Linked DNA regions of Homo sapiens. The protein of the gene in region 3 purifies or fractionates together with the protein of the main gene of each other region. This does not show direct contact. Each region holds a gene or a part of one and is shown on either strand. Other genes may lie near its edges.

Region 1 (3,500 bases), on a different chromosome or scaffold from region 3:
TCACTCAAGGCCCGGAGCTCGAGACCAGCCTGGGCAACATGTCCAAACCCCATCTCTACTAAAAACACAAAAAATTAGCCAGGCGTGGTGGTGGGTGCCTGTAGTCCTAGCCACTTGGGGAGGCTGACACAGGAGAATTGCTTGAACCCAGGAGGCAGAGGTTGCAGTGAACTGAGATTGGGCCACCACACTCCAGTCTGGGTGACAGAGCAAGACTCTGTCTCAAAAACAAAAACAAAAACAACAAAAAAAAACCGTAGTTTCAAAAATGTTCATATTACCAAGGTTGATGTTGACTTAAAAAGCAAAAAACAAACAACAGTGCTATGGACATATTTTATCATCTCTATGACAAGCATTGGGTGTCAGGAACTTCTTGTAGGCCTTGGGTGGAGGTGACTGTATGGCTTCCTTGGTTTATCTAAAAGGCAACCAAAGTCTATTAAATCTCTTGGTATACAGGGCTCTTCTCAGATATGACGCAGTTGTGCTATAAAACCATTAGGTGGTCTAGGCCAGGCGCGGTGGCTCACGTCTGTAATCTCAGCACTTTGGGAGGCTGAGGTGGGTGGATCACCTGAGGTCAGGAGTTCGAGACCAGCCTGGCCAACATGGCGAAACCCCATCTCTACTAATAACACAAAAATTAGCCGGGTGTGGTGGCGTGCACCTCTAATCCCAGCTACTTGGGAGGCTGAGGCAGGAGAATCGCTTGAACCCAGGAGGCAGAGGTTACAGTGAGCCAAGATCACGCCATTGCACTCCAACCTGGGCAACAAGAGTGAAACTCCGTCTCAAAAATAAATAAATAAAAAATAAAACCATTAGGTGGTCTAAACAGTTTTCAGACTATCAAGGGTGCCCACTCTTTCGGCTTCCTGGCCCACATTGGAAGAATTGTCTTGGGCCACACAATAGCTGATGAACTAAAAATAAATAAATAAATAACCAAAAAAAAATCTCATAATGTTTTAAGAAAGTTTACGAATTTGTATTGGGCTGTGGAATAGACAAGCTTTTAAACTTAAATTTTAACTAGAGCTTCAAGGTTTACATGAACGGATTTTTCTATCTTGTTCTTAGTGATCGCTTGCCTTATTTGGATTAGGGGTACCTGCAGGTTGTAGCCACCTTTGTATCAGAGGCGTTCGAACGAGAGCAACTCCATCTTGAGTGAGGGCTAGGAAAGTGAGGCTGGGCCTTGCTGGGCTGCATTCCCAGAAAGTCAGGCATTCATAGCCTCTAGATGTTTAAGGTTAAGGGAACAAATTAATAATGTTTACTAAACAGACCCAGACTTGGGAGTGTCCAGATACCCTGATATCTGGAGAACGAAGGCATTCCTAATTTTGCTTTAAAGATAGTATCGATTCTTGCAAAATATAATAATTAAGAAAATTAATCCTTTATCACAAACCCTTGCAGTAGAGCACATCTCCCCAAGATCTCTTTTTTTATCTTATATATATGAGCACTGTACTTAGGGTGGAAGTGTTCCTCCTCTTACTTTCAGGAACGCCCTGCTCTGTCTATGGAGTAGCTATACTTCCACTACTTTACTTTATTAATAAACCTGCTTTTACTTTGCACTGCAGACTCATCCTGAATGCTTTTTCTTTTCTTTCTTTTATTTTTTTTTTTTTGAGACAGAGTCTCACCTGTTGCTCAGGCTGGAGTGCAGTGGCACCATCTCGGTTCACTGCAACTTCTGCCTCCCGGGTTAAAGTGATTCTCCTGCCTCAGACTCCCGAGTAGCTGGGACTATAGGCACACACCACTGCGCCTGGCTAATTTTTGTATTTTTAGTAGAGACGGAGTTTTGCCATGTTGGCTAGGCTGGTCTTGAACTCCTGACCTCAGGTGATCTGCCCACCTCGGCCTCCCAAAGTGCTGGGATTACAGGCGTGAGCCACTGTGCCTGCCTTCAACCTAAATTCTTTCTTGCCCGAGATCGAAGAACCCTCTCGGGGTCTGGATCAGGACCCCTTTCCTGTAACACTTGGACTCTGAAGTACCTGAGTAAAACAGTAAGACAGCTACGATATAAAAACCATGGGGACCGGGCGTGGTGGCTCATGCCTACAATCCTAGCACTTTGGGAGGCTGAGGCAGGCGGATCACCTGAGGTCCGAAGTTCGAGACCAGCCTGACCAACATGGAGAAACCCCATCTCTACTAAAAATACAAAATCAGCCACACATGGTGGCGCATGCCTGTAATCCCAGCTACTTGGGAGGCTGAGGCAAGATAATAGCTTGAACCTAGGAGATGGAGGTTGCAGTGAGCTGAAATCGCACCACTGCACTCCAGCCTGGGCAACAAGAGCAAAACTCCGTCTCAAAAAACAAAACGAAACAAAACAAAACAAAACAACCATGGGAAGCTTTAGTAAGTTCAGATCTCTGATCCATGTCAAGCACTGCCTGGAAGCCAGGAAGAGTTGATTTTCAGAACCAACAGATCATGGTGCTATCTTTAGAAAAACAGGAAAGAAAACGCAGGAATGAAATTGGATCTTATGGCAGGTACCTTGCTTTGGGGGAGGGGAAGGACAGGCTGGCAAACAGGCCATGTTAGGGAGATTGAAAAATCTCGGCCAGGTGCAGTGGCTCACGCCTGTAATCCCAGCACTTTGGGAAACCAAGGTGGATGGATCACTTGAGGTCGGGAGTTTGAGACCAGCCTGGCCAACATGGTGAAACCCTGTCTCTACTAAAAATACAAAAATTAGCCAGGTGCGGTGGTGCATGCCTGTAGTCCCAGCTACTCAGGAGGCTGAGGCAGGAGAACCGCTTGAACCTGGGAGACGGAGGTTGCAGTGAGCCAAGATTGCACCACTGCACTCCAGCTTGGGTGACACTCCGTCTCAAAACAAAACAAACAAACAAAGAATATACCTTTCTCCAGCAAACAATTTGATTTTGGAGTACTGGATGACAAAGGTTACGTGGCTCTTCTCCTTGTACCTGTTCTCAACCCCGCCCCACCCAATTCTTTTACCTAGCACAAAGGTCTGGACATTAAACAGACAGAGGCTACAGTACCTACAGGCACACCTTTGACAGGCACCATCTGTCCTACGCTGTATTAATTCACCTCCAATCTCATACTTACTGATACTCAGCCACACAGTCCAGCAGACCTATATAGTTTAAGGTTTCATGTTGAACAGCACTTTCAAGAGCTCGCACTCCACTGACATCTTTCAGAATATGCTGGACACTTTCAATGTAACCAGACTTGAGGAGATTTTCATCTCTCTCTTTTAAGGTTTCCTGGGGTGAAAGTATGCTTTCCAAGGCTTCGTGGAACCGTTTCCCTTGTAAAAAGACGTCTGAAAAGAAAATCAGGGAAAAGGGGAGGGGGGAAACACAAACAAAGCTAACACTGAAAAACAAATACTCTAAAACGCCCTGAAACAATACAATTAAAAATGACATTTTTTTTTCTTTTTTTTTTTTTTGGATGGAGTCTCCCTCTGTCGCCCAGGCTGGAGTGTA
Region 2 (3,500 bases), on a different chromosome or scaffold from region 3:
CTATCCTGAAGCCATAGTCCGAGCAGATGGGAGGAAGGACTACGGTTAGTGAACACAGTGTCCCCATCCTACAGACAACCCCAGGCTATGCCCCGGCTGGGCCTCCCAGTGTCCTTCTGCTAAAGGAAGGGGAGATGAGATGACCGGGGAGATGAGATGAACAGGGAGGCCCTTCCCTGTAACCCTGTGCTGTCCTGGCTCTGGACACCCTCAGCCACCTGTCCTGTCTTTTGGCCCACAGCCACCACGGCTGACCAGACAAAGGGTGATAGTGTCGCCTGAGGAACACTGACTCAGGAGGAAATCAAGCCAGATATTTCTCTGGGCCAGGAGTAAATAAATAAATCAATATGCAAAGGTTCCACCTATGGAGGAGAGGGTGGCCATGACAGCAGAGAAGAAGTGGGGCCTTCATTAAGAGCCAAATCAAAGAGGTTGCTGCCTTGGAGAGAGCCGTAGCCCCAGGCTCCTGGCTCCCCAGTTTCCCCAGGGAAGGAAACTGCTGACTCCATCAAACCCTCACTTGAGTGGGGAATCTGATTTCACCTTCTGGGTCTTTGAGGCCCTGCAACCTCCTGCCCTCTGCCTCCATGTGTGGCATCCCACAATCCCATCCCCTACCTTGGGGACCTAGGGGCATGAGTGGTGTCCACTACATGCCCAGCACGCCTTCCCTGCGTCCCTTTCCTTGAGAACTGAGGCTGGCACCACAGGTTGTGGCTGGACCCAGCCAGCCTCAGGGGAACCCTTAATTGCCCTGACTGTCCAGAATTCTACCACTCACTCCCGCTAGCCAGCCCCAGCCTCTCATCTGTTTTGCAGCAGTATGACTTCTCTGGTCTTGCTGTCTCCAGCCCCCTGTGCCCTGTGCTCCACCAGCAGCCAGGGGCATCCTTGTAAAAATGAGGCAGAGTATGTCTCACTTGTGCTTGAAACCTTCTCATGTTTGCTCCCGACGCTTGCTTGACATGGGCAGACCCCGAGTCAAAGTCCAGCCAGGGCACCAGGGCTGTGCAATGCCTGGCCTCTCTGACTCCCACGCCCATGCTCCCCCTCCCCCACTCCTGCCATGCTGCCTCTAGCTGCCTCTCTAGCACCATCCCTCACTCTTAACTCAGGGCCTGTGCACTGGCTGTTCCTTCCTCCTGGAAAACTCTTTGTCCAGAAAGCCAAGTGGACTTCGCTTCCGCGCCCTCTCCCCATCCAATGGCTCAGATGTCCCTTCCTTAGGAGGCCTCCCTGCCCATCCTATTTACGATGGAAAATGACCCCCATATTCGCACACAGCCACACCACGTGTGCTGCCTTGCCCCAAGCATGGTCCCTTTCTAGCACACTGTATAATTTACTTAGAGTGTTTATCGCCCACCTCTTTCCCACTGTGCCATAGGGCAGGGACTGTTGGTCTGTTTGTTCATTGATGTATCCCATGTGCCCACATGGACCTAGCACCAAGCAGGTGCCAATAAATCAATCCCAGGCCCTCGTAGTGACTGAGTGAGGAATCGGTCAACGTGGCTCACGGAGGGGATAGTTGGGGACTTCTGGGAGGTCTTCTGGAAAGGCCCGTGGCCTTCCCTGGGTGGACACGGGTAGACGCACAGCCCCCGCCCACCTGGACTTGGCCGATCCTGATGCTGCCCCACGACTAAGCCCTCAGGCCCGGGAGCCAGGATGTCCCCTCATCTTGTAAGCCCTTTGGGGCTGGGCTTCTGTTGCTACCCCTGCAAGTGTGCTCCCACCCCACATACATTGCATGGCCCCTCAGCCCCCTTAGAAGCCCTGGCCCTCACCCTTGGCCTTCTTCCTGTGCCAGTGATGGGGATAATCCCCCAAACCCTGGCCCACCCAGAGCCTGGGGCTGCAGCCCATTCCCTGTGGTCCCTGGGGACCGCAGTGGCCACACCCTCCACACCTCCTCTATCCATTCCACACCATCCTGGGAGGAGGGAGAGCCCCAGAACAGCCAGCGTGGCAAGACAAACACACTGGAGACTGAGGCCAAGCACTCCAGGAGCCACGACAGAGATGGGGGTGTCAGTGTGGCCAGGAGACTCCTTGGAGGAGGTGGGCAGTGTTGGGGGGACAAGGGCAGCCCCACCAGTGCCTCTGTGTCCCAGCCACGGGGTGGGGCAAGGCTGGGCATGGCTGTGCTTGCGTGCGTGGTGTTATCATAGAGGAAATCAATGCCTGGCACTGGCCCAGTGTTTAAGGGAAATGAATAGATTTTGGCCGAGGACAAAGAGAGTTTGATTAATCCGAAATTGGATAATGGAGGCAACACTCTAATTATTTTTCTTCCCAGCATTTCATCGAGAAATATGTTTGCACAGCATATCAGAGGTAACTGAGCGGGTGAGGGGGTGACCATGCTGGAGGAAAGCCCAGCTCGGAGACAGGCCACCCGCACCCGCCCTCACCAGCAGGGGTCCTGGTAGCCACTCTACAGGGCCACAGGAAGCAAGAGGGCTGGGTGGGGCTGGCCTGAGGCCACATGCAGCTGGGGCAGCTAAGGCCAGAGGGACATGCCATGCAGAGCTGGGCAGGAGGAGGCATGAGGGCCAAGCCCTCATGGTGGAGTTGCTCCTCCCCTGGCCTGGCCACAGTTAGGGGTAGGGCCACTAGTGTGGGGGTGCAAGAGGAGTAGGGGTGAGGTACCACCAGTTCACAGGGGGTCAGGGCCTGCTGGGGTCAGGGTGAAGGCTGTAGGTGCCAAGTTCTCCCACCCATAGTCAGAAGGGTCTTCAGAAGGCCCCTCTTGGCAGCTTGGAAGGTTTTCCCAGCTTTGCCTCTGGGGAAGCCTGATTAGCTGCTCCATAGCCAAGGTCAGACAGGACCACCGGGCCCCACAAACACAGAGCCTGGTACTTTACATGCCTCAGCCCTCCTTAGTCACCTTGCCCCCTCCTCCCTTGCTGACCCCACTCCTGCAACACCTGGAGCTGAAACCACACGGTTTAGCACCTTGTTTCCGTGGCCATCCAGCCTCCCAATTCCAAGAAGGCTTCTAGGGGCTCCTTGCTGGAACAGAGATCAACATCAGGTGTACATCCAAGAGGAGGCTCCCGGCCTTGTAGAGTGGTTGAGTCTCTACCACTCATTCACTTATTCATTCTTCAGTGTACAGAAAGAGGCTGCCATGAACGAAGCATGGGGTTGGACCCTGAGGTCACTACAGGGAGTGAGGCATCAAATGAGAGAAGAGACAGTCAGCAAGCAATGACCTGAGCTGCTCATGGGACTCAGGAAGACGGAGGCCAGTCCTTCCCAATAAGGGGTTAGCATCAGTGTCACTAAGGAAGGGGCATGTAAGGAGAGATAGGGTGGGTTAAAGCTGCTAGATAGGAGGGGGTACAGTGGTGAGGTTCACCAGTCACTGGCAAGCTCATCTAAATCCTGCCTCCCGTGCCCGCTGCAGACATCACTAATCGACCATGACTCTTTCCCTCTGGGCTGCAGCACAGCCTTAGAATCCTCTTCAGCACAGCATGCTTTGGACG
Region 3 (5,286 bases):
CTTATGCTTGGCTTTTTTCTTTTTTTTTTTTTTTGCCAGACGTTAAAATACATATCAAAAACACCATGCAGGCACCAGAGTCCTGAAATTGTCAGAGAATTTCTCACAGCATTGAAAAGCCACAAGTTGACCAAGTAAGTAAATCTCTTAAGTAGGAAGAGCGTGACACATGGTGAAATGATAGTTGCTACATTCGTAGCAACCGTGTATTGATATTCGGCTGGGTTTGGATTTAAAGAAGGATTATAGTATTGGAGATGAAACAACTGAAAGTTAGACATAGGGACTAGAGTAAGGAACAAATCTTTTTTTTTTTTTTTTTATAAATGAAGAAAGTTCATTTATCCTAGTGATACTGTATTACTCTGCCTGCTTATTCTGCAAAATTAGCAGAGATTAATTTACATTCTCAAAAAAGACGGGTGAGGGGAAATGGAAATGCTTCATGGAAAAGAAGGCAAATTTAGGTCATAGGTAGAGATCTCAATCAAATGGGCCAAAATACAGTTTATTTATATCTGCTAACTCCCAACTGCTAGCATCTGACCACAGCATAACAAGCTTGGAATCGGGGAACCTGGGCTGTAGTCCAGTTTCTGCCCCTTATAGCACCATGACCTTGGAAAAGGTATTTGACCTCTCTGAGTTTCATTATCCTTACCACTGAATAAGGATCATCTGCTAAACTCACAAGGCTGGGGAAAGGGTGAAGGGTGGTGTCTTCATGGAAACAATATGTGTAGATGTCCTTTTTGGACTCCAGAAGCCATAAATGATGCAACCTTATTTATTAACCATTAATGTGAACAGGGCCAACCATTTCTATGTTATTAACACTGCTTCTTCCCTAATGATTCAATTCAGATAAACCTTACAAAGCACTTCACACCAAGAGCTGAGTATCAGGGCCACTTGGTTCTTACAGACGCAGTGCCTCCAAGCCAAAATTGGTAGAACCAATAGTTCTACTCTTAAAGCAGGACCTCTCTAGCCTCCCATTATCTAGATGAAAATGAGCTTACTAATTTAGAAACACAAGTGAGTATATTCTAGGCTAACCAAAGTAATTCTTCTCTAATTATTGAGAACATTAAATGTCACGAGCTGATCTCAAAATATTAGTAAAATAAGTTAAATTGTTTTGAAAGGAAGGAAATGTGATAATGTAGAAATGGGGAAAAAACAAGACAGAATTGAAATATTATATTAATCAAGTACTAACCCTGGTTTGAATGGGTAAATGCAGAAGACCTTTCTTCCTTCTTTTTTTATTTATTTATCTTTTTTTTCAAAATTATACTTTAAGTTCTAGGGTACATGTGCACAACGTGCAAGTTTGTTACATATGTATACATGTGCCATGAGGAACAAATCTTAATGGGGTTTAAAAATCTTTTCTTGGCCAGGTGTGGCGGCTCATGCCTGTAATCCCAGCACTTTGGGAGGCTGAGGTGGGTGGATCACCTGAGGTTGGGAGTTCTAACCAGCCTGACCAACATGGAGAAACCCCATCTCTACTAAAAATACAAAATTAGCTGGGCGTGCTGGCACATGCCTGTAATCCCAACTACTAGGGAGGCTGAGGCAGGAGAATCGCTTGAACCTGGGAGACGGAGGTTGCGGTGAGCCAAGATCGCGCCCTTGCGCTCCAGCCTGGACAACAAGAGCAAAACTCTGTCTCAAAAAAAAAAAAAAATCTTTTCTTGGAGTCCCAGTTTGTATGACATATCGCATCAACCCCACTCCCAGAATTCAGACCAAATTGGATGAAAAGTAGGGTTGACAAGTTAAAGTACTTTTTATAAAGTTGATCAGTGAAGTCTTTTGACATTTGTGTTTGCTTGAGGCAAAAGTGGCTTGATCATCTTCTGTGAGTTCTTGTAGTTTCCAGTTCCTTTTCTTGGTCTGGAATGAGTTCAACCTTTTAAAATTGAAAACGTCATACATCAAGAGTTTACATGAGAAGAAAACTAGCCCGTTTTTTTTTTATTGGTTTGTTTTTTTTTGAGATGGAGTTTCACTCTTGTGAGTTCATGCTGGAGTGCAATGGTGCAATCTCGGCTCACCGCAACCTCTGCCTTCGGGTTCAAGTGATTCCTCCTGCCTCAGCCTCCACAGTAGCTGGGATTACAGGCATCTGCCACCACACCTGGCTAGTTTTGTATTTTTAGTAGAGACGTGGTTTCTCCATGTTGATCAGGCTGGTCTCGAACTCCCAACCTCAGGTGATCCATCCACCTCGACCTCTCAAAGTTCTGGGATTACAGGTGTGAGTCACCGTGCCTGGCCAATTTTGTATTTTTAGTAGAGATGGGGTTTCACTCTATTGGCCAGGCTGGTCTTGAACTCCTGACCTCAGGTGATCCTCCTGCTTTGGCTGCCCAAAGTGCTAGCATTTCAGGTGTGAGCCACCGTGCCTGGCCTATGTATACATTTTTGAATTGACTTGTTGATATCTGGAACAAATCCTGCTGAGATTCTGATTGGGATTGCCTTACATCTATAGGTCAGTTTTGGGGGAGAATTGACATCTTGACAATATTAATAATTCAAGATCGGACGGGCACGGTGGCTCACACCTATAATCCCAGCACTTTGGGAGGCTGAGGCAGGTGGATCACGAGGTCAGGAGTTCAAGACCATCCTGGCCAACATGGTGAAACCCCGTCTCTACTAAAAATACAAAAAATTAGCCGGGTGTGGTGACGGGGGCGCCTGTAGTCCCAGCTACTCGGGAGGCTGAGGCAGGAGAATCACTTGAACCTGGGAGATGGAGGTTGCAGTGAGCCGAGATTGCGCCACTGCACTCCAGCCTGGCGACAGAGCGAGACTGTCTCAAAAAAAAATTTAATAATAATAATAATTTAAGATCAGTCAAAGGTTAAAAAAAAACAACCCGCCAATACTGAACCTTCTAGTCCATGAAAACAGTGTAGCATACAGGTTCTGCACAAATTTTTTTAGATTTATACCTATTTCATAATTTTGCGTGCTATTGTAAATGGTGCTCATTTCTAGTTGTTGATTGCTGATATAGAAGTACAGCTGACTTTATATTGATCTTATGCCCTCCAGCCTTGATAAATCCACTTATTAGTTCTAGGAACTTTTTTAGTGTATTCTTTAGGATTTTCTGTGCAGAAAGTCGTGGTATTTGCAAACAGAGTTTTACTTCTTTCTCATCTGTATGGCTTTTCCTTCTTTTTCTTATTTCATTGCCCTGGCTGGGGCCTCCAGGATGATGTTGAGTAGGAGTGGTGAGAGCAGACATCCTCATCTTGTCCCTGATATTAAGGGAAAACAGTCAGTCCTTCACCATTAAGTATGATGCTAGTTTAGGTTTTCCATGAATGTCTTTTACCAGGTTTAGGAAGTTCAGATTGCTGAGATTGGATGTTGAATGTTGTCACTTGCTTTTTCTATATCTATAAAGCTAAAAAGATTTGTAGCCTTTTGGCTGTATCTTTTTGTTTATTTTTGTTTTTAGTAGTTACTGAAGGGATCCCTACTAGGTTACTAGTAGGGTTAATAATATGCATGCCTGACCATTTATAGTCCAGAGTTAATATTTTACCAGTTGGTGTATATAAGTCTCTTTACCTTCTTTTTGTGTTATGGTTGTATTTATAACATATAATCTACATACATTGAAACATATAATCTGCATACTATTAGTAGTGTTTTTACATTGACTTTCTGTATTCTTACATATTTTAAAGAACTTAAGAGAACAAAAATAGTCTTTTTGTCATCATTTCTTTTCCTCTCTATTCCTGAAGTGCCCTGCGTCCTTTTTATCATTTACTTCACCAGGAAGAACTGCCTTTGGCACTTTTCTGAGAACAGGTCTCTTGGCTACAAATTCTCTTATTTTCATTTAGCTGAGAATGTCATTATTTCCTTTCATTCCTGAAGGATAATTTCACTGGGTTGATTGATCTTTTCCTTCAGAACTTTTAAGATGTCATTTCAGTGACTTCTGGCTGTCACAGTTTTTGATTAGAAATCTGTGATCAGGCTGGATGCAGTGGCTCATGCCTATTATCTCAGCACTTTGGGAGGCTGAGGCGGGAAGATCACTTGAGGCCAGGAGTTTGAGACCAGCTTGGGCATCATTGTGAGACTCCATCTCTATATTTTGAAAAATAATTAATTAAAAAAAAATTTTAATCCGCTATCACTCTAACCCTAATGTGTCATTTTCCTCTGGCTGCTGTTAAGATTTTTTTTATCCCCCTCTACTCCTACTGCTTCACTTCACTAGCCTGGGCGCGGTGGCTCACGCCTGTAATCCCAGCACTTTGGGAGGCCGAGGCTGGCAGATCACGAGGTCAGGAGATCGAGACCATCCTGGCTAACACGGTGAAACCTCGTCTCTACTAAAAAAAAAAAAAAAAAAAAAAATCAGCTGGGCATGGTGGCGGGCGCCTGTAGTCCCAGCTACTCGGGAGGCTGAGATAGGAGAATGGCGTGAACCCGGGAGGCAGAGCTTGCAGTGAGCCAAGATGCGCCACTGCACTCCGGCCTGGGGGACAGAGCGAGACTCCGTCTCAAAAAAAAAAAAAAATTTAAATAAATTTCAAAAAAGATTTTCAAGTCTTTGGTCTTCAATAATTTGATAATGATATATTTCAGCTTTTTTTTCCCCAGTTTATTTTTGCTGAGCTTCTTGATTATGTAAATTTATGTTTCTTACTACATTTGTGAAGTTCTCAGCTATTTTTGAAATATTTTTTCTATCCCAATCTCTTTCTCCTCCTTTTCTTCAGCTCCCAGAAACACAACTGGTAAACCTCTGATACTGCTGTACAGGTCTTTGAGGCTCTGTTCCTTTTTAAAAAAATTTGTAGTTCAAATGGAATAATTTCTCTTTTTTTTCCTGTCTCTTTTTTTAGTAGAGATAAGGTTTCACTCTGTTGCCCAAGCTGAAGTGCGGTGGCACCCTCAGGCTCACTGCAGCCTCAGAGTCTAATGGGATAATTTCTGTTGATCTGTCTGTATATGCACAGATTGTTCTGGCATCTTCCGTTATCAAGCCTACCAGTGAATTTTTCATTTCAGGTATTTTTCAATTCTAAAGTTTCCATTTGGTTATTTGTTATAACTTCTATTCTTTCCTGAGAACTTGTATTATTCCATTCATTTCAGGAATGTTTACTTTTTCCCCCAGTTATTATAATAGTTAGAATCTTGATAATTTTAACATGTCATCATGGGCTTGGCATCTGTTGATTATCTTTTCCCTGGAGAATGAGTCGTATTTTCGTGGTCGAGGTAATTGTAGAT
Region 4 (3,500 bases), on a different chromosome or scaffold from region 3:
ATGAAGCTATGAGCAGAAGCCACTACTTTAACTTGATTCTCTTGCTAATATTTTCTTTGCATTTTCTTCTGTGTCATCTTCATACCTCCACCTCAAATTTTAAAAAGACAGTTGGAAAATAAAAGAAAGCCATTTTTTTAAAGGGCTGAGAGTGTAAAAAGAAGGAGAAATTAGTTATTTTCAACCCTGCAGGACACTGGAATCGTCTGTAGAAATCCTAAAATATATCAATGCCCTAGCCCTTTCCAGGCCCTACTGATTATTTATGGAATATAAATTAGCATGGGTAGAATCCCAACATCTGTCTTTTTTTTTTAAGCTCCCAAGAAAACTGTAATATGAACTCGGGCCAAGAACCACTAGTAAAAACTTTCTCCACAAATCCTTCCCTCCTCTCATCTATTTAGTTAAATGTTAGCATTCCCAGCCCATAGCAAGGACTGCATGAACTATCTTTAAAATTGTCCATTTTTCTTCTTTCATTTACTCTGTCACAGAAGAAAAATTACTAATTTTCAACTGGAAATTTTTAAACAAGTGTGTATAGTAAAATTAATTTTAGCTTATTGGATATTCTCATTCCCAAATGCTCAGGATTTCTTTTTCAGTCTTAAAAAAACCACCTTCATTAGTAGGTATTAAGGTAAACAGCAAAGCATACAATAATAAGCAAACTCACAATATGCATTCTAGTTATCGACTTTCAATAGATATCAGAAAATACTCAAAACAATTATCTTAAGGAGCTGATTATATTTTGATACTTTATTAACTACAAACATTTGCAGAATCTCAATTATATAAAGACACATCAGCAACAATATATCCTGATACTCGTATGACAGAAAAAGTACTCAGTAAAGATCCTTTTTTTAAAATAAAAACTGGCATCACAAGATTCCACATCTTTAAGATTTAAAGATTTACATTTTTGGAGTAGGGAGAGTCAGACTGTTGTCAGATTCCCTAAAATAAATGTAGAAAAGAAAATAATGTTTTGTAAAAAATATGCATCTATAAACACTTTTTTTCAAGGTCATCTAAAACTGACACCTACTAGTTTCATCTCCAAAACAATACTAGACTATTTTTGTACTCCAAATTAGAATTTTATTAAAAGGTCCTGTAGTCATAAATTTGCACACCCTAAGACTTATAGAATACCATAAATTTTCTCTCTTCTGTCCTGATTACCTAATATATTTGCCTGCCACTTGAAAGTATTCATTGCTAGAATATAAAATAAGTATTTCACAGAAATAGAAAATAAACATGACACACAGTGGGTGTAAAGAAAAAAAACATTTTCACTTCCCTTTTTACTAAAGGAAATTCTGAATATAATTTTAACTCTAATAAATCACAGTCTAATACACTGCCTAGTATACCACCTGAAGTCAAACCAAACAAACTAAAAAAATAAATAACACAATAATTTCAAAATATTCAGAAGTCCACTAATTTTATAATGTATATTTGTACCAAAAGATATTATATGGCCAATTTCAATTTAAAATTTTAAGATAAGTAATTTTAATACATCCAATTTTAAACATAAAGAAATCTGCAAAGTATCAATACATTTGAGGCACACTTTATTCATGGTAATATACAAGGAAAGCAGTTATATATTAAAATCTAAACTGGTAGAAAACACATCCCACCCCAAGATTCTACCCCCCTCAAAAAAAAAAAAAAAATTACTGTTTTTTCTGATGGTAGAAATAATGCACAGTGACAGCTGAAAACCCAAACAATATAGAGAAGTAAATGAAGTATAAAAATAAAAATCATCCTAAATCTCACCATTTATAAACAACTGACATTAACATAAATATTCTTCCAGAAGATGGATGGATTTACTCCATATACTTACAACCCATACATATATGTATCTATGTATACATGTATAGTATATATGCACATATATATTCCTTTCATTTACATATATTGATGGTAAAGAAATGCTTAAGATCATTTTCTTGAAAATAAAATAATGAATTGTCCCAAACAGTCTGCTTTTGCATTTTCATTTAAGCAGGCTAGGTTTAAGATTATTCCATGTGTGTGTGTCTGCCTGTCTTTCTGTGTGATGTTGTCATTGTTGTTGACTGCTTGAGGCAAGCTGAAAAATTTTGTCTGTTTACTTATTTTACTGGAAAAAAAAGAAAACTTCTGGTTAAATTTTTCCAAAGCCTAAGAACACAGGTATCTGTACTAAAGGTGATTAGCTGACTGATTTACATTGGTAGCCCACAGTCCTGAGCAAAACTGTAAAGTAGACAAGATTATTATGGCCTCCTAATTCTTACTCAGAAAGAGCACTCCACTAGTAATTAGGATATAAGAGTTCTACTAATCAGGTGTGTGGCTTGAGCATTTCAATCTTCCTATGATTCATTTTAAGTCTAAAATCCTATGGTCCTTCCCTTCCTCCCCAACCCCTTACCAACTCTGCTGCTCTCAAAATATGTAAAAACCATCCTTTCCTCCAATCTCACTGGAATTCCAGGATTCAAAATAAATCCTTCTGACCAAGAAACTCCCATTTCCTCAATGCACTTATTCTCCCCTAGATATGATAAGCAAAGTAATCAATGAAATCAAAGGTATGGGCAACTTCATGGTGAGGAAGGAAAGCAACAATGCAGAAAAAAAAATTTAAACAAGTTTATAGGAAAAAATTTTAATGTAAAATTAAATGGCTTCATGAGTTTCATAGAAAAAAATTATAATCTTTCAACTTCACCACCTATTTTATTGATTCAAAGTTAGCCAATGAAAAAATAAAGTAGTGTTTTTAGCTCCTAAAATATTCAGACCCAGCCGGGCACAGTGGCTCATGCCTGTAATCCAGCACTTTGGGAGACCGAGGCAGGCAGATCACCTGAGGTCAGGAGTTCAAGACCAGCCTGGCCAACATGGCAAAACCCCGTCTCTACTAAACATACAACAATTAGCCAGGAAAGGTGGCGACTGCCTGTAATCCCAGCTACTCAGGATGCTGAGGCAGGAGAATCACTTGAACCCAAGAGGCAGGGGTTGCAATGAACCGAGATCATGCCATGGCACTCCAGCCTGGGAAACAAGAGTAAAACTCCGTCTCAAAAAGTAACTTGCCAGCCACGGTGACTCAAGCCTATAATCCCAGCACTTTGGGAGGCCAAGGCAGGCAGATCACTTGAGGCCAGGAGTTCGAGACCAGCCTGGCCAGCATGGAGAAAGCCCATGTATACTAAAAATACAAAAATTAGCTGGGTGCAGTGGCATGCACCTGTAATCCCAGCTACTTGGGACGCTGAAGCACGAGAATCGCTTCAAAACAGGTAGACACAGCGATCACTATTTATCATCTCTCTAACATCCATATCCCCCAAATTCTTCCTTCCCACAATTTTTTTAAAATATCCTCCCTCTTCCATCTAACTCAGAAAAATGTGATCCCAACACCAATTGCAGAAGGTATCTCCTGATTAGTAGAAACCAACCATGATAACCTT

The links. The genes of interacting proteins can lie anywhere in the genome.
Region 1: the proteins of CRCP (region 3) and MGME1 purify together in Homo sapiens (affinity purification with mass spectrometry; one large-scale study listed by BioGRID and IntAct). This does not show direct contact.
Region 2: the proteins of CRCP (region 3) and GNAZ purify together in Homo sapiens (affinity purification with mass spectrometry; one large-scale study listed by BioGRID and IntAct). This does not show direct contact.
Region 4: the proteins of CRCP (region 3) and CSNK1G3 purify together in Homo sapiens (affinity purification with mass spectrometry; one large-scale study listed by BioGRID and IntAct). This does not show direct contact.

Annotation. Positions count from the first base shown.
Region 1 is NC_000020.11:17,975,518-17,979,017, reverse strand, and holds part of MGME1 (mitochondrial genome maintenance exonuclease 1 isoform 2 precursor), read right to left. Parts: intron 3,335-3,500; coding exon 3,115-3,334; intron 1-3,114. UniProt on the Homo sapiens protein: Metal-dependent single-stranded DNA (ssDNA) exonuclease involved in mitochondrial genome maintenance. Has preference for 5'-3' exonuclease activity but is also capable of endonuclease activity on linear substrates.
Region 2 is NC_000022.11:23,077,019-23,080,518, reverse strand, and holds part of GNAZ (guanine nucleotide-binding protein G(z) subunit alpha), read right to left. Parts: intron 1-3,500. UniProt on the Homo sapiens protein: Guanine nucleotide-binding proteins (G proteins) are involved as modulators or transducers in various transmembrane signaling systems.
Region 3 is NC_000007.14:66,134,241-66,139,526, forward strand, and holds part of CRCP (DNA-directed RNA polymerase III subunit RPC9), read left to right. Parts: intron 1-39; coding exon 40-134; intron 135-5,286. UniProt on the Homo sapiens protein: DNA-dependent RNA polymerase catalyzes the transcription of DNA into RNA using the four ribonucleoside triphosphates as substrates.
Region 4 is NC_000005.10:123,518,677-123,522,176, reverse strand, and holds part of CSNK1G3 (casein kinase I isoform gamma-3), read right to left. Parts: intron 1-3,500. UniProt on the Homo sapiens protein: Serine/threonine-protein kinase. Casein kinases are operationally defined by their preferential utilization of acidic proteins such as caseins as substrates. It can phosphorylate a large number of proteins. Participates in Wnt signaling.